Regions from separate parts of the Homo sapiens genome. Here regions 1, 3 and 4 are each reported to be linked to region 2. The links are microRNA targets in miRTarBase. Many come from high-throughput screens and were not tested one by one. Region 2 holds a microRNA gene; each other region holds the end of a gene's coding sequence.

The links. Region 2 holds the annotated microRNA hsa-miR-548ae-5p (AAAAGUAAUUGUGGUUUUUG, at 4,843-4,862, opposite strand). A microRNA usually pairs through its seed, bases 2 to 8, with sites in the 3' UTR of a target mRNA and lowers its output. Matches are read on the target gene's strand: a 7mer-m8 pairs with bases 2 to 8, a 7mer-A1 pairs with bases 2 to 7 and ends in A, and an 8mer does both.
Region 1: the mRNA of CELSR3 is a reported target of hsa-miR-548ae-5p. Seed matches in the 3' UTR shown: 7mer-m8 at 5,774-5,780 and 7mer-m8 at 5,689-5,695.
Region 3: the mRNA of PCMTD1 is a reported target of hsa-miR-548ae-5p. Seed matches in the 3' UTR shown: 7mer-m8 at 5,772-5,778.
Region 4: miRTarBase lists CCDC80 as a target of hsa-miR-548ae-5p. Seed matches in the 3' UTR shown: 7mer-A1 at 2,247-2,253, 7mer-m8 at 3,902-3,908, 7mer-m8 at 4,135-4,141 and 7mer-m8 at 6,324-6,330.

What each region holds. Positions count from the first base shown.
Region 1 is chr3:48,631,367-48,639,429 of GRCh38, forward strand. It overlaps CELSR3 (cadherin EGF LAG seven-pass G-type receptor 3), which reads right to left. Exons shown (of 35, transcript NM_001407.3): 35 at 5,097-6,866. The coding sequence ends at 6,839. SLC26A6 (solute carrier family 26 member 6) reads right to left here and starts at 4,095. Exons shown (of 21, transcript NM_022911.3): 1 at 4,005-4,095; 2 at 2,111-2,269; 3 at 1,885-2,024; 4 at 1,608-1,718; 5 at 879-1,030; 6 at 514-678; 7 at 283-435. The coding sequence starts at 4,027. It overlaps MIR6824 (microRNA 6824), which reads right to left and starts at 2,332; the gene lies at 2,270-2,332. RefSeq lists silencers at 3,534-3,633, 4,024-4,303.
Region 2 is chr2:35,468,219-35,476,281 of GRCh38, reverse strand. It overlaps MIR548AD (microRNA 548ad), which reads right to left and starts at 4,877; the gene lies at 4,796-4,877. It also overlaps the pseudogene RNU6-1117P.
Region 3 is chr8:51,814,122-51,822,184 of GRCh38, forward strand. It overlaps PCMTD1 (protein-L-isoaspartate (D-aspartate) O-methyltransferase domain containing 1), which reads right to left. Exons shown (of 6, transcript NM_052937.4): 6 at 3,462-6,597. The coding sequence ends at 6,230. Among named protein-coding and RNA genes, the nearest start is that of PXDNL, 8.7 kb to the left of the region's middle.
Region 4 is chr3:112,598,637-112,606,699 of GRCh38, reverse strand. It overlaps CCDC80 (coiled-coil domain containing 80), which reads left to right. Exons shown (of 8, transcript NM_199511.3): 8 at 937-8,063. The coding sequence ends at 1,283. Among named protein-coding and RNA genes, the nearest start is that of CCDC80, 38 kb to the left of the region's middle. RefSeq lists an enhancer at 2,643-2,812.

The DNA of each region.
Region 1 (8,063 bases), not on the chromosome of region 2:
AACCACTGTGAGGTGAGGAGGGAGATACTGGGCAAAACCTTCTTCGAGGGTGGGAAAAAGTCACGTAGGGTGAGAGACAGGCAACACCATTTCGGCTATGGGGAGATGCTGTCAGGGGCAGGAAGAAACCAACATAGGGGCTTTCTGCTGTGCCCCCCACAATACCCAAGAACCCTCCCAGCCCCCCTCCAGCTGGCCCTCAAATACAGGAGGCTGCCCACGTGGCAAGGACCCAGCCTGACCTGCCCTTCTCCCCTGCCCTCCACTCCCTGGCCCTCGAACCGTGAGCAGCTCCCCGGGTATCGGCATGGGCAGCTGCTGCTGCAGCTTGTCATTCAACAGCTTCACCACCACGAGCACCACCCCAGCCACAGCTGCAGTGACCACGGTGCCAACCTTGCTCTGGGGCAGCTTCCAGCAGACCTCCAGCACTGTCTGAGGAGAGGCCAGGTCACAGCTAGCACTCAAGGCCATGGGGCACACCTACCCCTCCCTCCCCCTACCCTCACTCACATAGATGAGGGACAGTGGCCCAGAGTGGCTGCTCAGATGGAGGCCAAACACATACTTGAGCTGTGAGACGAAGACCTGCACAGCTGCAGCTGTGGTATAGCCTCGGACAAGAGGTTCTGACAGGTAGGTGACCACGAAGCCGAAGTGGATCAGGCCCAGCCCCACCTGTGGGGCGGCCAGGGGCAGTCAGGAGAGGCAGGGGTCCTGGGGTTGCTAATGAGGAGCGCAGGGCAAGTGGGATGGGAGGGGGATGAGTAGACGGCAAGAGGAGGACGACGATGGTCAGACACTCAGGGGAGTACAGACAGGACAGTGGCGGGAGCAGAAGTGGTGGTGGGGGGCACATACTCCTGACTGTTCCACACCTGGAAGAGGCCAACCAGGACACTGAGTGTGGAGGCCACCTGTACCCGGGCAGCATCTCTGGCTGTCTCATTGATCATGGAGTCGTTCAAGGCCTGCGGGGCCAGGGATTCTGTCACACTGCCCACCATCACAGACATGACAGCAAAGGTCCCTGTAAGGACGGCACGGGGCAGGTCTGAAGAGGAGAGGACACTGCCCTGCCCTGGAGCCCTGGTCTTAAGAGAGAGGCCAGGAGACTTCCAGTTCTGGATAAATGTACTCAGATTATGGCTGCATGAACAGGGACAGTGCTGGCGGTTCAGGTTTGGCCAGGCCAGGAGTAAACCCTGAGCTCACAGGCCCTTAAGCATGGCTAGAAATGCTGGCCCTGTCTCATCTACCCTGTCCCACCTGTGTCTACTGGTCCCGGGACACAGAGGCTCTCTGTGGAGTAGGGAAGGGGTCAGGGCTGGCCTTAGGCTGCTCAGGCCTCTGCCAAGTTCCAGGCCCCTTGGGCTGCCTCACCCACTCTCATCTTCCTGGAGCCAGGGCTTTGAGGTCACCTGCCTCTGTGGTCCTACAGTCAGGGGTCTAGTCCTGCCTGGGGATGACTCGTGGGCTAGCCCAGGGATGCAGCACCAATGCTGCCCTCTTCCCCAGCCGCTCCTGCCCTGCTCAGTGCCCCCTCACCCTGCCCTCCATGATGGATGTGGGCATCCTCCTGGAAGGCTAGGCCTGCCTCCACTTACCCACGGAGATGTGCCGGGAAGTGCCAAACAGGAAGTAGATGAAGACAGGGTAGAAGGAGCTATAGAGGCCAAACACGGGGGGCAATCCAGCCAGGAGGGCGTAGGCCAAGCCTAGGGGTAGAATGGTAGCAGTGCAGGCCTGGAGAGCAGATCTTGAAACGATAAGGGAATCCCAGCCCTGGGTTAGGTGCCATAGTTCCAAGGTAGAGGTCATGGCCCCAGTTTTGGGCATCACAGACCACAGGGTTTCCAGGCCGACGCACTGAAGGTGGCTCACCCTGCGGAAGCTGCATGATGGCCACACTCAGGCCGGATAACAGGTCACCCAGGAGCCAGTCACGCACAGGATACCGGGGTAACCAGACCAAAACCGGGAGGTGTTGGAGCAGAAGGGCATAGGCCCGAGCACGGGAGCACCTAGGGACATGATATGAGGGGTAGGTGTCAGGAACAGGGGCTACCTGGGCCCCGCCAGCGCCCCCAGGCCCCAATCTTGGCCTTACTGCAACCAGGTCCGCCACTGGTGGGTCCTAGGTGCTGAGCCCCAGCGCCCCAGCTCCTCCAAATGCTCCTGGTTCAGCAGCGGCCGTTCCATGTGGTAGTCTCGCCTCCGCAGGTCCATTGCTTGTGTTGCAGACAGCAGTGCCTGTGTGTCCCTCGGTCTGGGGTGGCAAGACCAGAGAGACACAGTGAAGGCATCCCTGGCCCAACCTCCCCTACACCTCCACCTAGGACCAGAGAGTTACCTACCTGATTTTTCCAGGCCCTAAGATCAAGGTACAGTATTCCAGCCCCCAGCTGGCATCTGTGGGCCACATGTCCAAACTCAGACAGGGGCAGTACCTGAACTTTGGCTGGTGAGAAAGCCTCTTTCTAGGACAAAGTCCCCCAAGTAGGGACTGCAGGATGAGCACTAGCTATACCTCCAGCCGAGATGTGGCAGCCCAGTGCTGAGTGTTCTACCAGTCCAGGTCCCAGGCTGCTCCCTCCCCCACCCAGTCCCTCTCCAGTCCCCAGGTCCTCCTCCAGCTGCCCCGGGAGCCCACTGCTGGCTGAGAGCACACTCAGGGAAGGGGTCCAGCAAACCAGGGGTCCAGCTCCTCAAGCAACTCCTTTCCCAAGCCTCAGGCCTCAGATGAGACCCTCCCCTCTAAGGGAAGGAAAGTGTTGGAGCCAAGCTTGCCCCTGGGCCTCCAGCCCCAGGGTCCAGGTTGTAGACGGCTCAGGCCTGTTATGGGGAAGCCAAGGACTGGCTCTCACCTGAGAAGGAGCTTGCTCTTGGAGTGGCAATCTCTCACCTAGAGGGAGAGGCTCCCACATGGAAAGGGAAGTACCCACTTGAAGTGGGGGAAAGAGCTCACCTGGGAATAGAAGCTTTCAAGGGGAATCTCACCTAGAGGGATCTCTGACCTACCAGGGAATCTTTATCAGCCTGGCAAGTTCTGATACAGGGGGAATCTTCCCTCTGCCCAGAGGCACCTACTTGAAGTCAGAGAAAGATCTCACATGGGAAGAAAAGACCTAGAGGGAGAGGGTTCTCACCTGGGGGGTACTCTCCCATAGAGAAAGCTCTGACCTCGGGCGAGGCTCCCACGTGGAATGGGGAAAAGCTGTCACCTGGGAATAGATCTCACAGAAGGATCTTACCTGGGGGAAAACTCTAGCCTGTTGGGGAAGCTTTCACCAGTCAGGAAAGTTCTGATCTAGGAAAAGCCCTGACCTGGGGAGAGGATCCCATTTGAGGGACAGGAACTCACCTGGGAAGCGCCTCTAACCTGGCTGTACTGTTGGAGGAGTGTGGAGTGGGTGCAAGGAAGATCCTCAGAGACTCTTGGGACCGCTATCTCAAGGAGATCGTAGAGCCCCCTCTCCTTTCCTACGTGAGTCACTCAGGTCTTCTTAAAGGGCTCCCTCCCCCGACAACTTGGGACCCGCGTTTGGAGGGCGGAGCCTTGATCATTGGCCCCTCCCTGTAGGAAGGCAACTGGGGCCAGAAAGGCCGGAGCGCTCACTCCGGGATCAGTGGAGCTGGGTGGACTCGGGACTCAGCTGAAAGCAGCTAGTCCACGGGCCGCTGCCAGGGACTCCCGTGCCCCACGCACCCCCGCCGGCACATCTCCTGGCCGGGCTCCTCCGCACGCAGCTGCCTCCCTGTGGCCCGGGATGGCCCTCGGGCGTCACACCAGCGGCTTTCCGCACAGCCCAAGGGACTGGGGTCGCGCCGGCTCCCGCCCCCACCCCTTGCTGCAGAGGGGCAGCCGCCTGCAGAAAATCAGCAGAGGTAAACCGAGGCGTCGCAAGCGGAGAATGCCTGCTCCAGCGAGGCGTCGCAAGCGGAGAATGCCTGCTCCAGCGAGGCGCTCGCGCGGGGCCACCGGGAATGTGCGCTGAACTCACCCCGACGCATCCGCCAGCCCCATGGCTCGCAAGTTGTCCGGTGCGGGCTGCTCCTGCTGCTCGAGCTAGAGGCCGCTACGCTCCGGAAGGCGGCGCCGGGACCGGGTGAGGCCAGCTGCGCTCTCCCGGGGGCTAATCCCGGGGCAGGACGGGGAGGCTTGGGCCAATCAGCGCGCTGGGGCGGGGCCTAAGTGGCGCGCGCCGGGCGGGGAGAGACTGGAGAAGGAGGATTTAACCGCTTCCTCCCCGGCGACCTGGCCTATGAGGCCTCTCGCTGCTCGCCCGGCCCTCTGCCCGGAGCTGGATGGGACTGCAGAACTGGAACTAAGCACCCGCGCCGGGCTGGCCGCAGTCGCGCCCCCAGGCCCTGAGTAGGTTGGAGCTGATCCCAGGTCCTGGCTCGGCGGAAGGTGCTCACGGAGTGGGAAAAGGAAACTCCACTGGCCGGTGACCCCAGCCTTAACTCGTAGGGGATCCAGGTCTGTGGGGCCTCTCTTGCCTTCAGCTGAGAGCGCCACCCGCAGGCTTTCTGCGACTACGCATCTCTTTGAGACCCGGAGCCAACGGTCCCCAAGTCCTCCCCTTTAACTCTGGCCACCCAGGCCAGAAATGGTTGGAGGATCCCCTCCGCTGCACTAAGCACAGCCCGGACGTAGCTCCCAGAAGGTTACTGCGCGGGCCGCCGAGGAGAATGGTGGGGGTCAGTGCTGTTGGGTGGGCGTCAGTGCTGTTGGGTGGGCAAGGCAGGAACTGCAAGAGCAGTTCCTCAGGTTGGTTTCACCGCAGGTGAGGGCAAAAAATGCCGGGTCAGGGCTGCAGACCCTGAAGAATTAGGAAGTCCTGTTGCCGTTGCCTTGACCAGCGGGGAGGTTTTCCTTAGCACCTTATTTTCAGCACCTGTGCTCCAACATCAGGCCCCAATTACAAAGTGAGGGGCCAGATTTCAAGGTGAAAGAGATCTGCCATGAAATGGGCTAAAAATAGCTGGATATTCTTGGGAGGGGCTCAGATTCCTCCCAAAGGTCAGTCTGGCTTGAATCATTCACAGCTTCCATCCTACCTCCCCAGCCCCCAACAGGAAAAGGCAACAACTGTTTTCTATAGAAGTTTATTCCCAAAACAGAGCGCGGCTTCACGGAACAATTTACACAGACAGGAAAGAGGGCCGCTGGGCTGGAGGAGGGGAACCCCAGAGAGGGGCATCTACGAAACCTAGGACATAGTAAAGACACCCTCCCACCCCCAGCAGGCCACTCAGCCCTTCAAGAGCTGGGGTCCTTCTCGGTAAGGAGAGTTTGGGTCCTGGCTGGTGGGATTTAGCTCCAGTCAGGGAAGTAGAATTTCTAATCTCCCAGGAAGCTGCTTCCCAAGAGTATGCATGGGGTGGTGGGTGAGGAGGTGTCTGCACAGACCACCCCCCAGCCCTGCACAGCCACTCTCCCCCGTGGTTAGAGGACGCCTACTCTCAAGGTCTTCTGGATCTGCTGTTAAACGGGACTCAAGGCTGACCTTCGGCCTGGGAGACCTGGGGGTTAGAAAACCCCTCAAGATGGCCAGGTCAGGGTCCTCACAGGTGGGTCCTCCAAGTCCCTCTCCCACTTTCCCTACCTTTCACTTGGAAACAAAGGAAAAAAAATTATCTACTGTAAACAAAGTGTAAAACTCAAAGTTTTGAGTTGTAAACAAAGTAAAAACATTTTTTGAATCTGGACTTGTAAACAGTAACAAAATTTTAAAGTCTTCAGTTCTGGACAGCAGACAAAATAGCAAAAGTAAGAGTTTTGTGAACAGGGTCGTAACAGTCATTTTTCCCTTTTTAAGGGAATAAAGGAGGAGTGGAACGGAGTCACTTCCTGCAGCCCAGGTGCCTAGGGCCACGGAGGATCCTGTAAACATAGGAGGCAGTGGCACCTACATTCTGGGTCTTGAATTCCCTTGTTTCTGCTCCCTTTGCTCACCTTCCCACCCTACCCTTCGGAATCAATTCAAGCAGGGGGCAGTGTCAGGGAATCAAATGGCACCACAGACAACTTTTGCTTGCTGCAGGGGCAGGTGAATGACCCCTCCACCGACCCTCTGCAGGAATGTCTGACTAGAGGCCCGAGCCCCTCCCCGTGGGAGACAGGGAAGCCTTGCTCTGTAAACACGACATCAGCTGCTCCACCAGCACCCCACAGCATCAGTCCTAGGTCATAAGGCAGTAAGTGGCAGGGACTCCACATAATAAACACACACATCCACCAGGAGGGGCGGTATGAGCAAGCCCCCATGAGGAAGTCAGAGGACCCCTGTTTCCAAGACCAACCCCCAGCCCCAGAAGTTTGGCCTTTGGAGCATTCAATAAAAAGCAAAGAACAATTCTGTACTTTGGGCCCCTGACGATACTCAGATCAACTTGGGGGTGGAATAGGGGGAGGAAGGCATGTGTCCCACCCATCTGAGTCCACCCCAGGAAGGAGAGAGAGATGAGCATAGGGTTTGCTCAGGACCCAAATGGGGTCAAACTGCATCTCTCCCTCTATCTCCCTCCCCCTCCCAGCCCAGCCTCAAACCCCCCAGGAGACAGAAAAGCTGAAAAATAACATAAGCATCTCTCTGGTTACAAAGGTACAAAACGTATAAAAGTCTCCCTCCAGTCCCCCGTCTCTGCACCTGTCACACGCATGCTCACAGATGCACATGGAGCCTCAGCCCTGCCACACCAGGTAGAGCTGGGGCACCCACCACTGGGGAGCAGGAGGCTGCCTTGGGATCTGCCCCCACTCCTGGAGTCTCTCCTGTTAGCCTAGATCCTCTGTCGCCCTCAGCTGTTCCTCGTCCACGCCGTCATCCCCTCAGGAGTGACCCTCACTTCTGGGAACTCTGGAGGCACATGAGGAAATCAGAGGTTGATGCCCAGAGGACTCCGAGTCAGGCGGCTCTGGACTCCCCCACCACATTTGGCCTGGCTGCTTCCCTTGCCTCCACCACTGCTCTCGCCTCTTAGCCCCCAGCCCCTTCATGCCCACTCCAGGGTTCTCAGAGTCCTCCATTCCGCGCCCCTAGACTCAGCCAGGCTCCTTGGCTGCCCAGGTGTTTTCTCTAAGTGCTTCAAGAGCACCTACTGTTTACAGATGCTATATTGAGCACTTGACAGATATTATCTCATAGATTTCCACATCTCAAAGAGTTTGTTACTACAGACTTCTTTACAGATGAGGAAACTGAGGCCCAGAAAAGCTTGCCTCTGCCTAAGGTCACGCAGCTAGTAAGGTAAGACACAGAGCTCAAACTCAAACCTGTGCGACTCCAGAGCCTGGACCCCTGCTCAGTCCCTAGTCTACCTCCCAAACAGCCAGACCCCAAAGCTAGACTGCAGGGGGACCCAGGCCGTGGGTTAGCTCCCTCTGGTCCCCACCCCCAGCAGCCCTCAGTGCCCAAGCCCCAGGATCCCCAAACCCCTGCTCTTTCCTCCTTCCTTTGTCCTCTCTCTGCCCTGGGTCCTGCTCAGTTCTGTCGATCCCCTGCCCCACCCCTAGGGCCCCCTTCCTCCCCAAGCCATCTCTTACCCCACAAACCCCCAGAGCCTGACCCAGCTGTTTCTCCTCCTTGAAACTCAACTCTCCTCTTGGCTTACAAGAGACCTGGAAGCTCCTGGTTCCTCCCCACTCCCACCAGTCCCTCTCGGACTCCTGTGTATCCAGCTATTTCCTGGGTCTGTCCGCCATCCCCTTCCCCACAGATGCTTCACACATACCCGAGATGAACCAGGTTCCAACTCAGTTCCTGTGAGCCCCACCCCAAAGTGTCCACAGACAGGAGGAACTCAATGTTGACTGAATACATCGATGAATGAATGATTTATCCTCAACAAAGCAAGCCCTTCAGCCTGGTATATCCTGGCACCACTTCCAGCCTCTCCTTGTCCTATATGACCCCCTAGGCGAACCTTCCCAAGCAAGGCCTCCTGCTCTCCTCCCTGCCCCTTGCATATTCCAGGTCATCTCCCACTTCTAGGCCTCAGCTCCTGCCCTCCCATTCGCTAGCTCAGCCCATCGGATGGCACCTATTTCTCCTTAG
Region 2 (8,063 bases):
TTTGTCTTTTGACAAAATGTCTGTGCAAAATTACATGTATCACAAATGCTTATCTTGGATTTATGAGTATAATCTAAGGCAGTCAAAGAATTACACAGCTACAACTTCATACTGCTAGAGACTTGACACAATTCAACTGAGAAAAAATAATGAAATAAACTTCTATATCTATTTCCCATGTTTATTATCAGCTAGTGGCTGGACAAAAAAGCATGGGATCAAGTTATGTGGTAAGAGAGGATTAAATTATTCAATTTTCATTAGGCTACCTGTAAACTACAGTAGAAGTTAAGGAACAGAACAGTTAATGGGATTGTAATTAAACTGTGAAAATATATTGCACAAAAGATTTACTTTGATGTTTTGCTTGTATCTACAAGATTAGAGACTCTTCAGTCTTAGCTGCATTCCCTGTTTCTTCTTAGTTCTCTCTTTGCCCTTTAAAGTATTGCTTTCTGTGTCTTTTATCCCCGTTCATCCTTCCATTTTTCTCTGTTTACTTATTGTCCTTCATTACGTTATATGCCAAGCTCAGGTATTCAAATGTAAAGATTGGTAGGCAAATATGTCATGTTGCTTAAGGAGCTCTAATTTTCATTCTCAATCTGTGCCTTAAAACTAGAACTTTCTGAGCAATATTAATAAGAGTATTTAATTCAATTTGATATGAGGTATGCCCTGAAGAAGACACATTTACTCTGTTTCCGGACTGGTTCTTGTTCTCTCTCACTCCCTACTTTTTTTCAGGCTCTTTCAAACTTGTTATCTTTTAGTTTTTCTCTGGTTTCAAACCATTTACCCTCCTGTGGCCATTTGAAATCCTGCTTCTCTCATTTTACCCTCAATGCTTTCTATTCTTTGGTGTGTAGCTACTCTTTGGTTCTTGAGGTAACTTTATGTCAGCGAGTTCCAGTAACCATTTTGTTTACTTTAAGCCTCCCCTGGAAACATCCCACTAGACTGGTTCGCGCCCAACCCTCTGCAAGTAGCAAAGGTAAGGGATTGTTTATTCTCAGTCTGTATATAAATAACTAGCAACCCACATAGAAATTACATTGCCCTAAAGAAATGCGAAATAAGAGTTGGTTTAAGAAGGAAGCAATTGATGTTGGAGCTATATTGTAAAATAGTATTCATAGTGACATATTGGGTAATAATAATTTCACTATTTGAACAGCTGACTTAAGGAAAAAGAGTAGCTTAGTGAGGTGAAGTTCCATTCCTGTGAGATTCTTCGGTAAAATTCAAGTTTGCATCCAACTGATCATTGGTATATTGCAAGCATTTTGTGCTCACTGTAATAATGACAAGTAATGATATATTTTGTACTGTGATATTTAATATAAATAATCTGTGCTCTAAAAATTATTCCATTTTGTGTAGCTCACTTAATTTCCTAATATTAAAAAATCTCATTAAGAAAGCCACACTGGGAAATTAAATGCCTCATACATATTATAACACACCCTGCTTTTATCTAGAATTTACACTAACAGACAGTGGGTAAAACAACATAGAATCATACAAGTGATCCAAAAAATATTCAATTGGAATAGATATATTAGGAACGATGTAAAAATTTTAAATAATTTAGAAATAACAATTGATAATACTGTATGTAAAGTAGAATGTTGATTATAAGAAACACTATAATTCTCATTCCTAAATCTTTTTCAAAAAATAGGTGATTTTCCTGTACCTAGCAAGCAATTTTCTTGAATAAATAATCAGAGGCTTTTGGATCTGAAGGTAATTTTAGAAGTCATCTATTCAAAACCTTTAGAGATGAGAAAACTTCCTTCCCAGAGATTGATTTTTGGCAGGGACATATGACTAAATAACAGCAGAAAAAATAGGACTATACTGTATACATTTTGCTTTCCTGGACAATATTCATAATATTATTATTATCTTAGTAATATATTTTTTCTTAAGTAATTTGGTTTGAAGCTTTGAGAAAAATAATTACTATGAAAAATTTAGGGTATTACAAAAAGAGGTGAAGTTCAAGCCCAGAGATCCTGTCTCCAAGGCAGTTTTACTCTTTAAAAATATGATACCTAATAAACATAATTTCGATGAGGCTTTCTTTTATTCAGAGGGGGTCAGATTAACTATGCTTATGATAAAGTGGTGCTCTATTTTATTCTAAGTAAAATGTTTGCTTTAAGTCAGAAAAACATACAGAAAATGAACTTACCTCTTTCCATTTAAATCTAAAGCAGTTTGAACATTATAACTCATGACTTAAGAAATAATGATATTAATAAATAATTTTACCTAAAATGAAAAAAAATCACAAAAGAGATCAAATGGTTAAAATTACTTTGATAATAATTTAAACTTTAAAAGACAAGAGCACTAAATAATACAGTCCAATTCCTACATGAAATGAACCGAAATTTTGACGTAGGGCTTTTTGTAATGTTTGAAGTTAAAAGACAGAGATCCTCATTTGAAACTCCTTGGGGAAATAACTTCCTCAACTGCAAAATGCTCATGACAGACTAGGAATCACAAGAATATAAGACAGTCTTGCAAAAGCAAGAGTATAACATGGCAAGAGAATGAACGTGCAGAACAGAATATTGGTTACTGTTAAACTGTTAGATCCACTTACTAAGAATATAGGAGCATGAACACTGTAAAACTGTGCCAAAACTAATGACATTCGGATATTGAAAACATAGAACTCAGATTACAAAATCAGTTGTTCAGAATACAAATGGGTCAGTTGAATGAATTTGTAAATGAATAAAAATTTCATTCCCTAGGAAATATCAAATTAAAAAGGGGTTAGTCAAATATCTGAACGTGGACCAAGAGGATGTGTATGTCAAACTATTATGAAGTGGATAAACATATTATAGTACCTAAAGCAGTACTAGTTGTTCCTTTTTTTATGTGTAACAAACCAAATGAATTTAGTTACTGTTATTCCAGACCAGAAGACTGGAATACAATGACTCCTATCAGTTTACATTTCCTATTTGAAGGTAAAAGAGTTGTTTCTCTATATCATCTATTTGATCTTTCATTTCTCAAGATAAAGTTCACTGATTTCTGGAGGAATTATAAATAGAAGTAATCCATTTAGCTAAGACAAAAAAGACAATAGGACATATTGAAATTTTATTATAAAAAGAAACCAAATTTATATCCAAATAGAAAAAAAAGTTTCCTCATCATTCATGCATTATCCAGAAAATCTTAAAATTTTTAATAAAATTACCAGCCTCTCACCTGGGAATAGGTGTGTAAATATTTTATATGTTGTCTTTAACTTAATGAGTTATCATGGAATAGGAAGTTTTTAAGCCTGAATTACTCAGCACTATTCTACTTTTCCAATTCATTCAAATGTAATTTACTACTATTAAATTAGTATTAATTTATTTATTATTATACTTTCTCAATGGGGCCAAGCACAATGTTAAACATATGATATAGTTTTATTTATGTTTCATAATGTACGGTTTAATGGACACTAATAACCATTTGTGGATTTCTTGCATAATAATAACATACAGAACTCTAATAGTCATAGAAAACCTTCACTGAGTATTACCTATGCATCAGTGACCATAATTTGTCGTGTTCATGTGATATATTTAGCGATCTTCACAAGCTTATAATGAGGGAAATACTACCGGCATTATTCTTCTCAATAAAGATGAAGAAACAAACGCTTAGAGAGATTAAATAAGTTGCCCCAAGTCACTAACCCAGATATTAAGCAGCAATGTTGATACTGGTAGCAGACATGTCTGCCTCCAAAACCTGTACTTCTAACCAGTTAACATCTTTGTTTCTAATGTGTATGGCTTCTATGGGTACCCACATAGAATGGGTACATTGTTGAACATGACACATCTGTAGCCATGCTTCCCTCATTAGTCCATATCACAAAAGAAGAGTTGGTTTTCCCCATGTCTATTTCTCAACCCTCCGATTGTGCTCTGCCTTCTCTCTGTGTGTCAACTACTCCCAAATATTTAGGATATTCCTAGTTTTCTCCTCAGTGCATCACAACTCTGTATTCAGGGTTGTGCCTACCTGATAACCTTAACATCCATGCCATTGTTTCCCTTTTGATATGTGAGTTATCCTTAATAACTCATTCATGCTTACCACTCATATAAGTAAAATATGTCAATTCTAATTTTAAAGTAAAATACACCCACTTGTCTCTATCTTCATGTCTTCCTTCACTTTAGTCCAATTCATAGGCTTCTAAACCAGCCATCTAAAATCCCTTTGCCTTCATTTTTTCTCCTTATATTTGTTCTCCACACAGCAGCCAGGTTGACTGTTTTTTAAAACACACAAAGTTAAGCAGTTAACAGACTGGGGCCATACTCCACGATGGCTGGTTGAAGAAATTCACCATTCTGTAGGAACTAGGATTTGTATGGCTGCCTGAAGATCCATGAATATTGACTGCTGTGGAGCAATCCCCCTTCCCGCTCCAAATCCTGGTTTCTGCACCATGCCTCCACTGGGAGGGCCTCTCATTCTACCAACCGGCCCACCTCGAGGGCCTCCAGGACACTGAAGACAATTATCTCATGGGAAAAATATGGAACGCTTCATGAATTTGCATGTCATCCTTGCACAGGGGCCATGCTAATCTCTATATTATTCCAATTTTAGTATATATGCTGCTGAAGCAAGCACCAAACTAATTTTTTACGTGAGTAATACCTACATATAAACTACAACATACATGCACATAGACACTAAAACAGTACAAACATAGAGTGAAAAGTTAAAATTCTTCCCACAACTGTTGATTGTATTAGATTGGTGCAAAAGTCATTGTCGTTTTCGCCAAGTTACTTTCAAAAACCACAATTACTTTTGCACCAACCTAACAGTTGACACGTATGTGAAAATTGTTGTGTTTTGATCCTGGATCCTTATAGAATTCTTGTAACTTTGCTTTACCGCAACTGAGTACATTGACTCTTGGAATAAAAATTATATTTTCTGTAAAATATATGTTTAGGTTATTTATTAACTATATATAAATTTTCCTTTCGATTTATTGTATTGGCTAGATCCTGAAGATGATGCTGGGTAGACACTGTGAAAGAGGGCATCCTTCTGTTTTTCCCAATTTAATGAGAATGCTTCTGAAAGTTCATATATGTGTATTGAAGTTTTTAGAGGATTCCATTCATTAAACAGAGGAGTTGCTTTCTTCTCTCAGCATGGTAAATGTTGGGTCAATGAAAAAAGAAAATGTACTGTATACACACAATGGAAAACCCTTCAGCCATAAAAAAGAAGGAAATCTTGTTCCTGATGACAACATAAATAAACGTGGAAAACCTACGTTGAGAGAAATGTCAGGAACACAAAGACAAATACCACATAATATCACTTATATATGGAATCCAAAAAAGTTGAACCCACAGAAGCAAAATGGTGGTTTCCAGAAGCTAGGGGATTGGTCTAGCAAGATGTTAGTCAAAGGATACAAAATCTCAGCTGGAAGAGATAAGTTCAAGCATTCTATTGTATAGTATGATAACTATAGTTAACAACAATCTACTATAAGCTTGCAAATTACTGAGTACACTTTAAATTTCTCACTACCAAAAAAAAAAGTATGTGAGGTAATGTATGTATAAAGTAGCTTGATTTAGCCATTTCACAATGATTTGACAGATATAGCAAAATATCATCTGGAACACCATAAATAAATACAATTTTTATTCGTCACTATACAAAAGGAGCTGATCAATAGTAACAATTGTTGAAAATATTTTAACTGGATCTGAGACATTACGAATTTTTGTAGAAGTGCATTAGGGAAGTGCCTTAGGAAAGAAAATTTTTTTATTCCAGGTGTGGTTGATAGAGTTGAATTACAGTAACATTTTGTTTTAAATAACCTTTTTAAAAAATACATAGCTAGGTGTGGTGGCACAGAGCTGTTGTCCCAGCTGCTTGGGAGGCTGAGGCAAGAGGATTGCTAGACCCAGGAGTTTGAGTCTAGTCTGGGCAACATAGTGAGAACCCATCTCTTAAAAAATAATTACTTTTTTAAACCTAAGAAATTAGCTCTAGTTGGTCAAAAAGTATAATTATTTTAAAATTACTGCACTTATTTGATATATTTTAAAATGTGAGTATTTGTATTCATGTTCACATTGAACATCATAAATGAAATTTTCATCATATATGAGATTATTTTATAGTTTTTGTTTGTTTTCCTTTGCTAATTCTGTTTTGCATAAAGTTAAATGTCAGCTTCTAAGCATTCTTATTTCCCATATTTGTGTCTAGATTAAGAAAAGCAAATATTTGTTTTTTAAGACTTTAAAGTTGGTTAGAAGCAGTGTTTATGTTATAAATTAACCTTTCTCGTTCTTTACTTTGGTCATCAATATCTGGTTTATAAAAATAAATATTTTCAATATTTTCATAACTTTTTAAAGTTGAAAGCAAGAATTTAATGTTCTATACTCCTCTCTTGGTATCTTTAGCTTTAAAAAATACATATTAGGTTTGAAATTGTCTTTTGAGAATATCTTTGATATTTTTCTCTTGGATTTGATACATAGGGCTCTTATTTTTCATATATAGATGAGTGTACACAGATATGCATAGAAATTACCAAACTTTAAACATACATACAAGTGTGTATGGGAATAAATATGGGTTGTTTGGCCAAGTTTAAAAATTTCATTTATTCTTCATATTAAGCCAATATACGTGTATGATATCATTCACAGATTGATGGATATTTTCTTTGTGGCCTAATGTCATCAATGCCTTCCAATTCTATAGGTCTCATTGTAAAGAGTAGTTTATGCTTCTTTGGATTCAGAGTTATCCATGTATTTATTAAAACATATATATAGTTGTGTTATTCAAATTCTTTATTTTCTTCTTGGTCCCTCCTGTGTTCTGACAAGACCCTGTTATTTGTCTCATCAAAATATTTATCTCTGTTTGTATTAATTGCCCATGTATCTGTCATTTTCTTCTCTATTTTGTAAATACTCCTTGAAGGCAGTCAACATTTTGTCCCCAGTTTAGTACATGGCTCACAATAATTAGTATGTCAAGTATACTACATGGCTCACAATCATTCTCAATATTATTTGTTGAGTGAATGAACATTCAGTAATTGGCTGATGTTCACCATTATCTTAAGGGTTTCAATAATCTAGAACTTACTGTGAACAAACTTAGTATGAACCCGAACATTTTCTCATCCCACCTTGATGTCAATGGATTAATTCCTCATAAATATTAAACTATTATAAAAATTGTACGTGATTATTTTCTTTTTATTTTGCTGCAAAGCTAGTGTAGTTAGCTTTGGGGGGTTAATATTATTGATTACTTATTAGCTAATCCTGATGACTGAAACATAATTGCAGTTAACTCTGAATATTTAAAATATATTAGGAAATTAAGCAGATATTTAAGTTTAATAAATGATTTACTCCAGTATCTGATAGAACAATTCATCTCAGACATCCGTTCTCAGGAAGTCTTATACATTTCCCTGATTTGATCCTTCATGACTTCTTTTAGTTCGTGTGGAATTGTACACATTTTCTCAGCTCTTTGATGGAATGAGTCAGATTCTACTAAGACTGATATGCCCAGTTTCCCTTTGTGTCACTTATAGTTAGTCTCTTCTACCTCAGTGATATACAAAGAAACCCTGGGGGGCTTTTACCTCAATAGTAAAACGTTTCCACTGGCACAAGTTTTTCACTAGAACGGCCCACCAGTGAGCTTTAGAGCACATATAAAAGTTGTTTTCCCTGTAGCAGCCTGGCTGACTTTCCCTTTCATCGAGAACCCCAGGGATTTGATGTGAATCATTCCCATTGAGGTTAATTGGACAACACATTGAGAAAACTGGCCATAAACTCAAACATCATCTGCTCTGATGCTAAAGACCAAAAAGCACAATTGTAGTTTATTTTAATTGGCACCCTCCTGTGAAGGGAGAAAGAAGTCAATTATCAGATTATTCTAATTATCAGAAGCATGCAAGCATACCCCTGTGTTGAGAGCTTTTTTTCCTTCTTCAT
Region 3 (8,063 bases), not on the chromosome of region 2:
GGAAAGGACACCCTTTTCAGCAAGTGGTGCTGGGATAATCAGCTAGCCACACACAGGAGAATGAAACTGGATCCTCATCTCTCATCTTATACAAAAATCAACTCAAGATGGATTAAGGACTTAAATATAAGACCTGAAACTATAAAAATTCTAGAAGTTAACATCGGAAAAACCCTTCTAGATATTGGCATAGGCAAGGATTTCATGACCAAGAACCCAAAGCAAATGCAATAAAAACAAAGATAAATAGCTGGGACTTAATTAAACTAAAGAGCTTTTGCATGGCAAAAGGAACAGTCAGCAGAGTAAACAGACAACCCACAGAGTGGGAGAAAATCTTCACAATCTGTATGTCTAACAAATGACTAATATCCAGAATCTCCAACAAACTTAAATCAGTAAGAAAAAAACAATCCCATCAAAAAGTGGGCTAAGGACATGAATAGACAATTCTCAAAAGATGTACAAATACAAAAAAATTAGCCAGGAGCGGTGGCAGGCACCTGTAGTCCCAGCTACTTGGGAGGCTGAGGCAGGAGAATGGCGTGAACCCAGGAGGTGGAGTTTGCAGTGAGCCGAGATCACGCCACTGCACTCCAGCCTGGGCGACAGAGCGAGACTCTGTCTCAAAAAAAAAAAGTTGTACAAATGGCCAACAAACATGAAAACGTGACAAAAAAGCTCAACACCACTAATGATGAGGGAAATGTAAATCATAACCACAATGCAATACCACCTTACTCCTGCAAGAATGGCCATAATAAAAAAGCAGCAGACATTGCCATGGATGCGGTGATCAGGGAACGCTTCTACACTGCTAGTGGGAACGTAAACTAGTACAACCACTACGGAAAAGAGTGTGGAGATTCCTTAAAGAACTAAAAGTAGAACTACCATTTGATCCAGCAATCCCACTACTGGGTATTTACCCAGAGGAAAAGTAGTCGTTATACAAAAAAGATACTTGCACATGCATGTTTATAGCAGCACAATTCATAATTGCGAAATCATGGAACCAACCTAAATGCCCATCAATCAACGAGTCGGTAAAGAAACTGTGAGATATATATATATATGATGGAATACTACTCAGCCATAAAAAGGAATGAATGAATAGCATTTGCAGCGACCTGGATGAGATTGGAGATTATTCTTCTAAGGGAAGTAACTCAAAAATGGAAAAATCAAATACCATGATAACATCTATGTTCTCACTGATATGTGGGAACTAAGCTATGAGGTTGTAAAGGCATAAGAATACAATGGACTTTGGGGATGTAGGGGGAAGAACGGGAGGGGGGTGAGGGATAAGACTACAAATAGGGTGCAGTGTATACTGCTCTGGTGATGGGTGCACCAAAATCTCACAAAGCACCACTGAAGAACTTACTCATGTAACCAAATACCACCTGTTCCCCAATAACCTATGGAAAAATTAAAAAATTAAAATAAAGAAATAAGGCTGTTCTTGCTCATCACTATTCAGTTACACTGGAGGCCACAGCTGGCAAATCTGGTAAAATAAAAAAACCCAGAAGAAAAAAAATAAAACTGTCTAAAATTTATTCAAATATATGATTTCCTATACAGAAAACCTAAAAGAATCAAAAGAGATAGTACTGGATTTAATCAATGTACAAAAACCAATAAAAGGAATAAAATACAATTTTAATAAACTACAACATCATTGAAAAATATAAAATATCTGCAACTAAATCTGACAAAAGATATTAGATCTTAGAGCCAAACCATACTTAATAAGTCCTAACTAAAAAAAAGAGAAGTACCATATTCATGGACTGGAGGACTGCCTATCATAAACATGTTAATTCTTGCATAAACTGATCTATAAATTCAAAGTGATTCTCAAGGAACTCCCAAAGAAGAGTGTGTGTGTGTGCATGTATGTAATCTGAGAAGCCAATTCTGAAATTTAAAGTCTACAGTCTACAGGTTCAAGAAACTCCTAGCATATAAAGTGAAGGGATTTATCTTCCTAGATCAAGAATTATTGTAAATCTCCAGTAAATAAAATTGTGTAGTGTCGGCAACGGGTTATATAAACTGACTAATAAAACAAAAAAGAAAGCCTAGACACATAGCAAAAATATATGAAAACTTACGATAAAGTTAACACTGCAGATCAGAGAAGAAAAAAGAAACTTCAAAACATGGTCCTCAAACAGTTGATCAATAAAGTAAAAAAAAGAAACTGGACTATTAGTTCTCACCATACACAAACATCAATTCCAGCTATTGTGCAGATTTAAATGTGAAAGGCAAAATCACAGACCTTCTGTAAGAAAATATAGGTTAATATTTCCATGACCTTGAGACTGAGGGTGAAGGAAGATGAATCTGACAATTAAAATTGAAAATGTCAATTCATCAAAAAACATCATAAACAGAGTAAGAAACCATAAACTGAGAAAAGATACTTACAACACATATAATTGACAGTGGAATATATCTAGACTGCAAAAGGAAATCCCACAAAACAGTTTTTTAAAAGAAACTACCCAATAAAAAAATGTACAGAAGACTTGAACAGCACTTTGCAGAAAGGAATCCTAAAACCAAGAAACGCTTGAAGATAAAACCCCCTTAATAAATAACCTTTATAAGTAACAAAGTCCCCTAAGAAGATACGTCACACTACTAAACAGGCAAAAGTCTGTCATGTGTAGGTGAAGATGTGGAATAACTGGGACATTTAGACATTGCTAGAAGAAACATACTGTTAAACTATTTTGGGAAGCAAATTTGCACCATCTAGGTAAAAGTGAATAGAAATGATTTCCTATGACCCAGTAATTCTACTCCTAGATGTACACCCTAAGCAGACTCTCACACATGTAGTCACAAGACATATAAAAGAATGTTCACAACTGAACTATTCGAGGGAACAAAAAATGTCCACCAACAGTAGAATAAACTGTGAAGTGTGAATGTAACAGAACAACATACGACATGGGGCAATCTCAGAAAGGTAATGTGAAAAAGAGAGCTGCTGAATGCGTACAGTAGGATCCTAGCATATATGAAGCCAAATACATTGTTTAGAGATGCAGGCAGGTGATTGAGAACAAAAAGGCAGATTATGATAAACACAAAATCCCTCCTCCTGAGAAGGGAGGGATTAAGATGTGGATGGGAAGGGGCACACAGGAGACTGTAAAGCTATTAGTTGAACCTAATGGGTACACACACATGTACCTACATGTACACTAAATTATTTCTTATATTTCATGAATATTTTATAAATTTCCCTACCTATTTTATAAAAATAAATTTTAAAAAACTTCCATACTCTTCAGAAGTGGCAATAGTCAAAAGACAGTGAGATGTCCAAATAAAGACAATTGTATGCCATAATTGAGCATATCCATAGGTGTACTGAGATTGCCTAAATTTAAAAAGAAGAAGACAAACATAAAAGTCAGGCCATGGGAGAAAAATGCTTAATTACATGTAATTGTTTATTTAAAATAATTTTCCAAGTCTTCCAATGATTTAACAGGCTTTGCTTCACTTTTATCATCTCAAACAGCTATAAATCAACACACTTTTTGTATTTTATTTTACTACTATGTATGCTATTTTAATAACATTTTTCTTTATTAATACTAGAACCAAATATATTGACCAATAAGCAGTATAGATTTAAATTATCTTCTTGGGTTGGTCTGAGGTTGCTGATGGATTCTTGGGATTGATCTGATGCTAGAAGCTATCTTAGGCCCTGTCTCTAACTCACTGTATGTTTCAGGCAAAACATGCCACGGTTCTAGGTCTGTTTTCTCATCTGCAAAATAAACACCCAAATTAGATGATACTTACTGTTTTAACTAGCTATAAAATTCCAATACTATATTCCCCATCATTTTCACTTACTTTTACTTAATCTTTATTTGCTACTTTTCCACCTATAAAGCGTAATTTTCCATATCAAGTAAACATAAATTCATTAAAAAATAAACACAAACCCAAAATATTCTTATTCTAATATATCTGCATTAATAGATAAAAAGGCTTTAGCTTTAATTTTCATTTTTCATTTCTACCTCTTAAAGTCAATGATAAACTCACAAGTGTAAAATGAATGCATTTAAAAACATAAAAGATACATTTCAATGACAAGAAATATGCAATGATCATGAAAATCTACTGTACACTTTGCCATGGTCAAAGAATGAAGGACAATATGGAAAAGCCAATCTTCAAATATATCCTTAACAAAAACTCTCTCCTGCATAGTAAAAGCATCATCTAAACAGCAGCTCCAACCAAAAAAAAAAAAAAAAACAAGCAGGGGAGATGGGACAGATAACTTTCTCCAGGTTTTCCAGATAAAAACATGTGGTCACCAGGAATTCAAGGTAACTAGGTACTTCAAAAGCCACATTTAATTCAAAATAAAATGAGCATTTCTGACAGATGACAACAGTATGAAACTGATTTTTTTCTTTCCTAGATACAAAAATGATATGGGGCATTTCTTAACAGTTTAGTAATCGTCTAAGAATAATTGTAGAAATAACCCCAATTCCACCATCCCAGCCACTGGTATAAAACAAATACCTTCCATGAAACTGTCTTTCACATAACTAAAATATCCTCACTTACTTGGAACAATTTCATGCTTACACATGATCACAAACATTTGTTTTTAGATGTTGTGGAATTACTGGAGCTGAGATTTCTGAAACAATATCTGAATCTTAGCAGAGAGATAATAATCCTTTCACTATACATTGCTTGGGCTTCCTTAACCAAATCTGAGTAACTACTGTAATAATAATGCTGGTGGTAGTCCATGATACTCTCAAATTTTTCCCTTTAAGAAATATATAATCCATGTAACTCTAGCAAATATGTTACATTGTACACTTTCTTAACAAGGAATGGCTGTTTTCAGGCCTTATTAGGAAAACAAACAAACAATGGCAGTTACTACCTGTTTTTTATCACTGATAAGCTAAAATAAAGCTCAAATATGGACAGTTTAACTGTGTGATATTAAGTAAAAAATGAAAACCATTATAGTTTTACCAAAAGAAACACAAAAAATATGGGAAGGAGTGAAATGAACATGGCATAGGTCCCAAAGATTACACTATGATTCTGAACAGCATTTTCAAAACAAAGGGTATCTACATACAATTTCTGTGAATATTTCTTATACTAGATAGATCAAAAGCAAATGTAGGCTCAGCCCTACCTTGTCAAAGATAAATATTCAGATAAACTAGAAGTTCCATCTGCTAAAGTGCATCCGCTGACCAGGTCTACCCTGGCCCTGCTACTTACAGCCATCCAAGAAAGTGGCCTCACTCATGCTCATTCACTCGTTCTGTGTCCTATCAAGAGTCACACATAACAATGGTTTTGCTTTTTTTAAAAAACCAAATACTTTATACAGTGAACTACAGAAAAAACAATTCTAAATATACTTTTAAAATTCTATAGAGTTAAGATAACCTCATTTTTTTAAATACTGAAAATGTAAAGGGTCCATATAAAGAGTTGTATTAAGTATAGACTTTGTTTTAATAATTCACTTGCTGTGCTCTTAAAATCTCTATGAGAGAGGCAGATATTTTACCCATGTCTTTTGGCAAGAGATTCAAAAGCAAAAGTAGCAGGGCTGTAAAATTTCATAAAATTTGTGGGATTTTTTAAAGCTAAATTATTCAATATCTTGTATTGTTATTGCACTCATATATTGCCCGGAATATATATACAGCAACCCAACAACAGTGATTGCAACAAAAGTAAGGTAAATAGTCTACAAAGCATTTGACTTCCTTATTAGATAAATGAAGTTTTCATAGAGGAAATGCAAACAACTGCAATTCAGATCAGGTTATATAAGCTTAACAATTATTTAAACCATATATAAAATTAAATCTAAACCTCATCACTACAAATCTGTAAGGAATCAGAAAAGGATTTATAGTACACAAGTCTTGACTACTGTTGCATTCCACTTTGAAATCACTCTGAGCTAAAACAACATTTTTCCAAGATTTAAAGAAAAATAGATTTTATAAAAGGGATTCTTTTATTCACTGAATACATCATTTGTGTTACTGACAGAAACAAGTGATTTTTTTTCCACTATAATTTGCTCTGATGAAAGAAATAATTCTCTCTTTTAACTCCTAACAAATGCTACATTTTCAAGACTAAAGGAATTATCAGTAGGCATTTTTCTTCTTGATCTAAGTTATTTGTCTCTAAAATATGTCAAGTAAGCTTTTAAAGATTCAGGGAGGGGCAGCTTCATGATTTTTTCTCTCAGTAAATTTTGAGGTGGCTCCTCTGGCTTCATTGCTTCATTGTGATCTTTTTCCTCCTCTTCTTTGTTATCCTCTTCCATTTTTTCATCCTCTTCACTGTCTAGAGGCTGAGGAATAAGCTGATTACCCACAAATACGTAAGTGTTAATTCTCTGTTTAACTCTCTTTCTTTTCCTTTTGGGTGGAGCCCTTTGAGGAATCCCCTTGGCCTGCATCTCATCATTTATGAAATTTCTAAGTGTGCGTCGAATGTAAATACGAGCCAAGTCCTGTAGATTCCTGACAGCACAGGGAGCTAAAAACAAACATAAAACGCAAGAAAGAAAATATTAACAATAAAACATTATCTATTGTTTATTTTTTTCATAGAACAAAATGTGTTTCTTAGCATATTTTAGAAAATACAGAAAATATGAAAACTCTACCTTTCATCTAACAAAGGTTTTGGAGTAGTCATTATATGCCAAGGACCGATGGATGGCACTGAAGTTAAAATGTACAGGGGCATGTGTGTGTGTCTGTGTGTTGGCATTTACATGCATAAAAGTTCTCTGGAAGCATAAGAATTTGGAAACAGGGTACATGACTGTGAAGTAATTAGGAGACAAGACCAGGAGAGAGACTATCCTGTGTATCTTTTATACTTTTTGATGTATAAATCATATGAAAAGTACTACTTATTCATAACAACAGATGTGAGATCCCATCCCCTATGAAGTTTTTGTTTGTTTGTTTTGAAACAAGGTCTCACTACAGCCCAGGCTGAAGTGTGATGGCACAATCATGGCCTACTGGAGCCTCAACCACCCAGGCTCAGGTGATCCTCCTGCCTCAGCCTCCCAAGTAGCTGGGACATAAGCACACGCCAGCACACCTGGATAATTTTTAAATTATTTGTTGAAACGGGATCTCACTATATTGCCTAGGCAGGTCTCTTTAACTCCTGAGCTCATGTGATCCTCTCATCTCAGCCTCCCCAAATATTGGGGTTACAGGTGTAAACCATCATGCCCGGCCCTCTACATGTAAAAATACACAAAAACCATCTGCTCTGCCCATCTTCCAAAATTGTTCACTAAGTTATTTAACATTCATCATCAAGTAAGTATTAACCTATATCTGCCAGGCACTGTTAAAGAACCCATGCAGACACACTGGATGATTTAGACTACCAAGTCTGCACTCCCTGCACTTATGCAACTTGCATAATCAGGGAGGAGTTGCTAAACAAAAATCAATTATAAAGAAGAAAAATAAGGAATACAAGAAAAAAATCAAAACGCCAATGATATGATAGAAAGTGGGGTTCTGGTTTTGTTTTTTTTTTTTTTTGAGACGGAGTTTCACTCTGTCACCAGGCTGGAGTGCAGTGGCGTGATCTCAGCTACTGCAACCTCCACCTCCCGGGTTCAAGCGATTCTCCTGCCTCAGCCTCCCAAGTAGCTGGGACTACAGGCATGTGCCACCACACCAGTGTAATTTTTTGTATTTTTAGTACAGATGGGGTTTCACCATGTTAGTCAGGATGGTCTCAATCTCCTGACCTCGTGATCCGCCCACCTTGGCCTCCCAAAGTGCTGGGATTACAGGCGTGAGCCACCGTGCCTGGCCCTGGTTGCTTTCTATTGGGTGGTCATAAAGGTCTCCCTGAGAAGATCCTGTCCTAGCTAAGATCTAGATGATATAACAGCCATGTAAACATCTTGCGGGCAGAGGGAACCTAAAAGGTAAATGAGCTTAGCATGTCCAAGGAGCCGAAGG
Region 4 (8,063 bases), not on the chromosome of region 2:
TAATCCTAGCACTTTGGGAGGCCGAGGTGGGCAGAACACTTGAGGTCAGGAGTTCGAAACCAGCCTGGCCAACATGGTAAAATCCGTCTCTACTAAAAATACAAAAATTAGCCAGGCATGGTGGCATGCGCCTGTAGTCCCAGCTACCTGGGAGGCTGAGGTAGGACAATCGCTTGAACCTCGGAGGTGGAGATTGCGGTGAGCCGAGATCACACCACTGCACTCCAGCCTGGGTGACAGAGCAAGACTCCATCTCAAAAACAAAACAAAACAAAACAAAACAAAACAAAACAAAACAAAAAAAGACTCTTGACTGAAGTTTTCAGAAAGCAAATCCAGTCCTTTCTTCCAAGACCAAGCTCTTTAAATAATGTGTGTAAAATACTTGGCAGAATGCCGGACACAGCAGACTTGAAAGTGTCAGCTCCTTTTCTCCTTCCCCTCTATTCTTTTCACTATTCACAATAGTTTAAATATTCCTCTAGATCTTAACAGAATTGATATTTTCACTTTTAACAATGAAATAAGCTTTTTATCATTAAGATGTGTCAAAAGGTAAGCTGTAGTTACAGAGAAGTAACTAAGCTAATTGGAAATAAACTTAGAAAGATAAACTATATAATCCTTGTTAGTGACAAATTTTAAAGAAATTAGTCTTGCCAGGATTAAATTAAGGAATTGGTTTTATACTTTGTAACATTCCTACAAAAGACACATCGAGTGCCCCAAAGTTTGACCCTAATCGTGTTGCAGAAAGCAGGGACATTTAATTTCTAGTAGAAAAAGCCCCAGCAAACTTCTTTAATTAGATTTTGAACTAAAGAGAAGAGGCTCATGGGTCCTCCCTATTCTCACAGTAATTTCCTCACACTTTAATGTTTTCATGGGCTCTGACTGTTTAATCTACTAACAATAACTATTCCAATGTTATTCTAGGGAGCTCTGTTGTTGAGCGAGAAGACGTACCAGCCCATTTGGTGAAAGACATTCGTAACTATTTTCAAGTGAGCCCGGAGTACTTCTCCATGCTTCTAGTCGGAAAAGACGGAAATGTCAAATCCTGGTATCCTTCCCCAATGTGGTCCATGGTGATTGTGTACGATTTAATTGATTCGATGCAACTTCGGAGACAGGAAATGGCGATTCAGCAGTCACTGGGGATGCGCTGCCCAGAAGATGAGTATGCAGGCTATGGTTACCATAGTTACCACCAAGGATACCAGGATGGTTACCAGGATGACTACCGTCATCATGAGAGTTATCACCATGGATACCCTTACTGAGCAGAAATATGTAACCTTAGACTCAGCCAGTTTCCTCTGCAGCTGCTAAAACTACATGTGGCCAGCTCCATTCTTCCACACTGCGTACTACATTTCCTGCCTTTTTCTTTCAGTGTTTTTCTAAGACTAAATAAATAGCAAACTTTCACCTATTCATGAGTTATTATTGAAACCTCAAATCATAAAGACATTTAAAAGAATTGTTTTTCTAACTGGAGGGGCTCTAGTGCTAAATAATAGTACTGAAAATTGATATTATTTTCCTTTTCTTATATGAAGGACCTTATTTGGCATATAAAATTTTATAAAATATGTATTTAAAGCTTTTTCTTATTTTTTGTATTAATTGGTAAGTGAAAACTCTGTTAAAGATCACACCACAATGTTTTCAAGAAACATCTGAAAAGATAAAACAAAGAACAAATAACTTATAATACTTACTTAAATTGACACTTTTTGAAATGCCAGTCTGAAAATAATTAAGATATCTCTGCTTTGTATGAGTTTCTTTTATGAAACTTGATACCACGGGAGTCCAGTAATATTGGCCACAAAAGCCAGAGAAAGTACCAAGCCCAGCTTTGTTATCATAGCCACTTCCTGCCCTGCTTCTGTTATTTTTAGTGTTTTTTCAGATATAAATCGGGGTCCAGGAAATCCTCACCAGAATCTGGCACTGCAGCCAAAGGCGATACTTCCAGAGTTCTAGTAGGCTGCTATGGAATTTCTGGCATGAAAATTCTTGACCCCTCACACTTTACCCCCTGTACAGCACAGGCATACCATGGAGATATTACAGGATCAGTTCCAGACCACCATAATAAAGTGGATATCGCAATAAAGTGAGTCACACAAAATTTTTGGTTTCTCAGTGCATATAAAAGTTATGTTTACACTCTTTAGTAGTCTATTAAGTGTATAATAGCTTTATGTCCAAAAAATGTACATGTTTTATTTTAAAAATACTTTATTGCTAAAAATTGCTAATGATCATAATCTTTTTGCATTGATGTTGATGGCTGCTGAATGATCAGGGTGGTGGTTACTGAAGGTTGGGGGTGATGGTGGCAATTTCTTAAAATAAGACAGCAATGAAGTTTGCCACTTCGATTGACTTTTTCTTCATGAAAGATTTCTCTGCAGCATGTGATGCTGTATGATAGCATTTTACCAGTAGTACAACTTCTTTTGAAATTGGAGCCAATCCTCTCAAACCCTGTTGCTGCTTTATTAATGAAATTTATGTAATGTTGTAAATCCTTTGTTGTCATTTCAATAATGTACATAGCAACTTACGCGAGTAGATTCCATCTCAAGAAATCACTTTCTTCGTTCATTCATAAGAAGCAAGTCTTCATCTATTAAACTTTTGTAATGAGATTGCAGCAATTCAGTCACATCTTCAGGCTCCACTTCTAATTCCAGTTCTCTTGCTATTTCCACTATGTCTATAGCAGAGCTTCCTCCAATGAAGTCTTGGGCCTCTTAAAATCATCCATGAGGGATGGAATCAGTTTCCGAACTCATTGATCTTCCTATTTTGACCTTCTCCCATGAATCACGATGTTCTTAACAGCATCTAGAATGGTGAATCCTTTCCAGGTTTTTAATTTGCTTTGCCCAGATCCATTAGCGGGATCACAATCTGTGACAGTTATAGTCTTACGAAAAGTGCAAATGACTCCTTGATTCCTGTGCTGCACAATAGGTATTGTGTTAGCAGGCACGAAAATATTAATCTCCTTGTATATCTCTATCCAAGTTCTTGGGTGACTGGGTATATTGTCAGTGAACAGCTATATATATATATATTATAGTGGTCTGGAACTGATCATTTATATATATATTTTATATACATATATAAAATATATAATATATATTATATATATATATATTTTTTTCGAGATGGAGTCTCGCTCTGTCACCCAGGCTGGAGTGCAGTGGTGCGATCTTGGCTCACTGCAACCTCTGCCTCCGGGGTTCAAGTGATTCTCCTGCCTCAGACCCCTGAGTAGCTGGATTTACAGGCGCCCACCACTACACCCAGCTTATTTTTGTATTTTTAGTAGAGATGGGGTTTCACCATGTTAGTCAGGGTGGTCTCGAACTACTGACTTTGGCCTCGGCCTCCCAAAGTGCTGGGATTACAGGCATGAGCCACTGCGCCCGGCCCGAACAGCAATATTTTTAAAAGATTCTTTTTTTTTCTGAGCAGTAAGACTCAAAAAGTGAGCTTAAAATGTCCAGTAAACCATGCTGTCCATAGACATGCTGTCATTCAGGCTTTGTTGCTCCATTTATAGAGCACAGGCAGATTAGATTTAGCATAATTCTGAAAAGTCGTAGGATTTGGGGAAATGGTAAATGAGCATTGATTTCAACTTAAAATCACCAGCTGCGTTAACTTCTAACAAGGAGTAAGCCTGTTGGTTGAAGCTTTGAAGTGAGGCATTGACTACTCCTCTCTAGATACGTAAGTCTGAGATGGCATCTTCTTCCAATATAAGGCTGTTTCATCTCTTTTGAAAATCTATTGTTTAGTGTAGCCACTTTCATTAATTATCTTAACTAGATCTTCTGGATAACTTACTGCAGCTTCTACATCAACATTTGCTGCTTTACTTTGCACTTTTATGGATGCACAAGGCTTCTTTTCTTCAAACTCATGAACCAGACTCTGCTACCTTCAAACTTTTTTTCTGAAGCTTCCTCACCTCCCTTTAGCTTTCATAGAATTGAAGAGAGTTAGGGCCTTGCTCTGAACTAGGCTTTGGCTTAAGGGAATTTTGTGGCTGGCTTGATCTTCTATTCAGATGACTCAAAGTTTCTCCATATCAGCAGTAAGGCTGTTTTACTTTTTTATCATTCATGCATTCACAAAGTAGCACTTTTAATTTCCTTCAAGAACTTTTCCTTTGCATTTACAACTTGGTTGTTTGGCATAAGAGGCTTAGCTTTCAGCCTGTCTCAGCTTTTGACACACCTTCCTCACTAAGCTTATTCATTTCTAGCTTTTGATTTAAAGTGAAAGATTGCAACTTCCTCTCACTTGAAATACCTGGAGGCTATTTTAGGGTTATTAATTGATCTACTTTCAATATTGTGTCTCAGGGACTAAGGAGGCCTGAGAAGAAGGAGAAAGATTGGAGAAAGGTTGGTTGTTGGAGCAATCAGAACATACACACATTTATTAAGTTTACTGTGTTATATAAGTGTGGTTCATGGTGCCCCCAGTAATTATAATAGCAACATCAAAGATCGTTGACTACAGATTTTAATAACAGAGATAATAATGAAACAGTGTGAAATATGGCAAGAATTACCAAAATGTGACACAGAGACATAAAGTGAGTACATACTATTGCAAAAATGATGTCAACAGACTTCCTTGATGCAGGGTTGCCACAAACCTTCAATTTGTAAAAAATGCAGTATCTGAGAAGTATAATAAAATAAGATGTGCCTGTACTTACTTGCTAATGGACCTATTACCATACTGGCATCTTATAAAAAAAATTACAAGGAAGGAGATTATATCCAGGGATTCTTTTTGTTTTCAAGGCAAAGGTTACCAAGTTACAATGGACCAAAGTAGCTGGAATGCAAAGGAGTATAATCCTTGTCTTTGAAAAAAGAGCATTTGTTTCAATCATATGGCATATCAAAGTAAACTTTCTCCCTTCCTCCCTCCTTTCGTTGCTGCTGCTTCTTTTTTTTCTCTTTTTTTTTTTCTTTTTTTGGAGAGGGTCTCACTCTGTCACCCAGGCTGCAGTGCAGTAGTGCAATCTTGGCTCACTGCAAACTCAGCTTCCCTCAAACAATCCTCCCACCTCAGCATCCCAAGTTAGCTGGGACCACAGCCATGCTCCACCATGCCCAGCCATCCTTGCTTCTTTACTACATTTCTTTTTTCAACAAATATTTATCAAGTAATATTGTCAAGTAATATTTATGAGCTTCCCCTCAGATAGGCATTTAGCATCATGATGGCACCATCCTCTAACAATAATGGGAAGGCTATTTTCCACTGTTATTAATCATTAATTCTCCAAATCATTTTAGTATTATTATTAATTCTAATAAGTACAGAGATTAATAAATGCATTCAAACCACATGTGAATATTTGCTATAGGTTTATCTGTGCCTACTGTATGTTCAGATTTTTCTTTATATCTGAACTTTGTTATAAATAAATGACAGTAAAAATGGAATTTATAGTTCAATGAACTTGACAAATCACTTATTCTGCCATTCATTTTCCATAAAGACCATTCATTCTTCCTTGTTTTACAGGTAACTGAGCTCCAGAAAGCTCAAGTGACTTTAGAACTCAGTTCTTAGTGTGTGAATTATGCTCCCATCTCATCCCTCTTCCTTGATGGAGCACTTTCCTCCTCATTTTTTCTTGGATAGTCTGTACAAGCTGCCTGAGGTGTGCAGGAAAGTGAGCCACGTCGAAGTGTACTGCTTTTAAATTTTTGCCAGGATGAAGCATAGCCCAAAGTTGCCAATAAAAATGGATTTCTTTACCTTTCTGAAATTGTGTGATGACAATTTCTAAGTAAAGGACCCAAATCATGTCAACTTCAGGAAATATAATAATGAGGGAGCCAGGAGCAGTGAGGGGCTCACACCTGTAATCCCAGCACTTTGGGAGGCCAAGGTGAGCGGGTCGCTTGAGCCCAGGACTTCGAGACCAGCCTGGGCAACACGGCAAAACCCTGTCTCTACAAAAAAATACAAAAAATTAGCTGGGTAAGGTGGTGTGTGTCTGTGGTCCCAGCTATTCAGGAGGCTGAAGTGAGAGAATCGCTTGAGCCTAGGAGGTCGAGGCTTCAGTGTGCCGTGATCGTGCCACAGCACTCCATCATCATCATCCTGGGTGACAAAGTGAGACCCTGTCTCCCCACCAAAAAAAAGAGGGAGTTTCATCTCCCAAGAAAATGAATTAGATAGGAATAATAGAAAATTTACTCTCAGAATAATAGGGTTCTAGCTCCTGCAACCAAAAAAAGATAGTTCTTTTTTACAACCTGAGATTACTTTTTCAAGCATTTCTCCAGTTCCACTGGCATTGAAATAATAGTTAGCAATGCATCTGAGCTTTTCTTCCTCTAATGAGCAGGCAGAGAAGTCATAGATCATCATTTGGAGGACTATAAAATAAGACATAGCTTAGCAAAAGGACCAAAATACATTCAGAGGAGGATGCTATTGGTGAATGTCCTCAAAGCCTATAATCTGGAAAAATACAAGGCATATCTCTGAAACTGTGAGGATTAGCAAACTAGCTAACCTGAATCTCTGTCTTCTGGTAGTATAAACTAGGTAGTTTCAAATCTGAGTAGTTTCTCCATAAAAGCATTTCTTCCCAAACGTTTCTTACCAAACTCCCAAATAAATGAGAAAAATAAAATACAGTTTTATAATTTTTGAGAAAGATTATGGGATTATGGTATTTAAAAAGAAAAGCATTCTGTAGAGTTGGGGAAATCTGGAAGACTCTTGAGGACATAGCTTTGCCGAAATTGCTGGTTGTCACAAGACTCTTCAAAAACTACTTTTCATCAGACATCTCCCAGGGCTCTGAGGTGAATATTAATTCAGCAGAAAGATCCTTTTCTGCTACATAGGCAGGAGGTCCAGACACAGGGGAGTGGGTGCAACCCAGCTGGTCCCATTTTCTGTAATATAATTAACAATGAAGCTCATACTTTCTCAACTTCTAGAAGCCTGGAGGATGGAAGCAGCCCGAGAGTAGGGTGAATGATGGCCTCAGTGGGCCCTTCTTAATGTGTCTCAGTACTGAATGTGTGGAGATTGTAGAAAAATAGAAGGCCCTTGGAAAAAACCTCTGTTCGTTTCTCTGTTCGTTTCGCTCCCTGATCTCCCTGCCGGATTGCTTTTCTTTCCTTTCTCTTCCTTGGCTGTCCTTTACCTCATGGTGTGGGGTGTGCAGATAGCAGGTTGTGGCTTGGTGAGTGCTCTTCACTTCAGGTCAAGGTGAGGCACAGTTAACATGCTAACTACTTTCCTCAGTTCTCTCTGAGTTGTGTAAAGCTCCCGATGCCAGACTTCCTCTTAATTTTGCACATTATTAAAGTCCAAAGAGTTAAGATTTGGTGATGAGGGGCAAAGGGCCAGCTGTCACAGAAATCAATGAAATGATACACAGAAATGGGTATCATGAAAAGGCCACTGGACTTGGGAAAACTGGGTGCCTGTCCTTGCCCTGCCATGTACTTACCTGTGTGACTGGAGGTGAGATGTTTTACCTATGGGCCTCAGTTTCTCATTACAAAATGACAGAGAAGACTAGATACCTAAGTTCCTAAGTTTGTGACATTTGTGAATTTTTCTTGGCCCTCTGTGAGTAGAGTGCTAAATTTAGAGGCTTCCTGTGGTTGAACTGATGTCCAATTCTCAGGGAACCCAGACTTCTCAGTTCAGAACCCAGTTCCAGATTTTTGTGGGAATAGGGAAAGGTATTAAATAACTCCATTGAATTCTTTCCTGCATAATGCCCTGCTGTGGCTGAGACTCAATGAGGTCATCACCTCCAACACACAGAACCCCTCATCATCTCCTTACAGCCAGACTGGAGCTTCCAAGGACATCAGGTTGGCAAGGATTGTGAGTACCCTAAACATCTAAAGAGGCCCTCTAATAAGGGACATATTTGTTCTTCAACAGTTTCCTAACTTGAGACCACAAATGCGTAATCTCTCTAATATCCTAAAGCTTGGACAAACTGGGCAGCCCCTGAGCAGACCGCACAG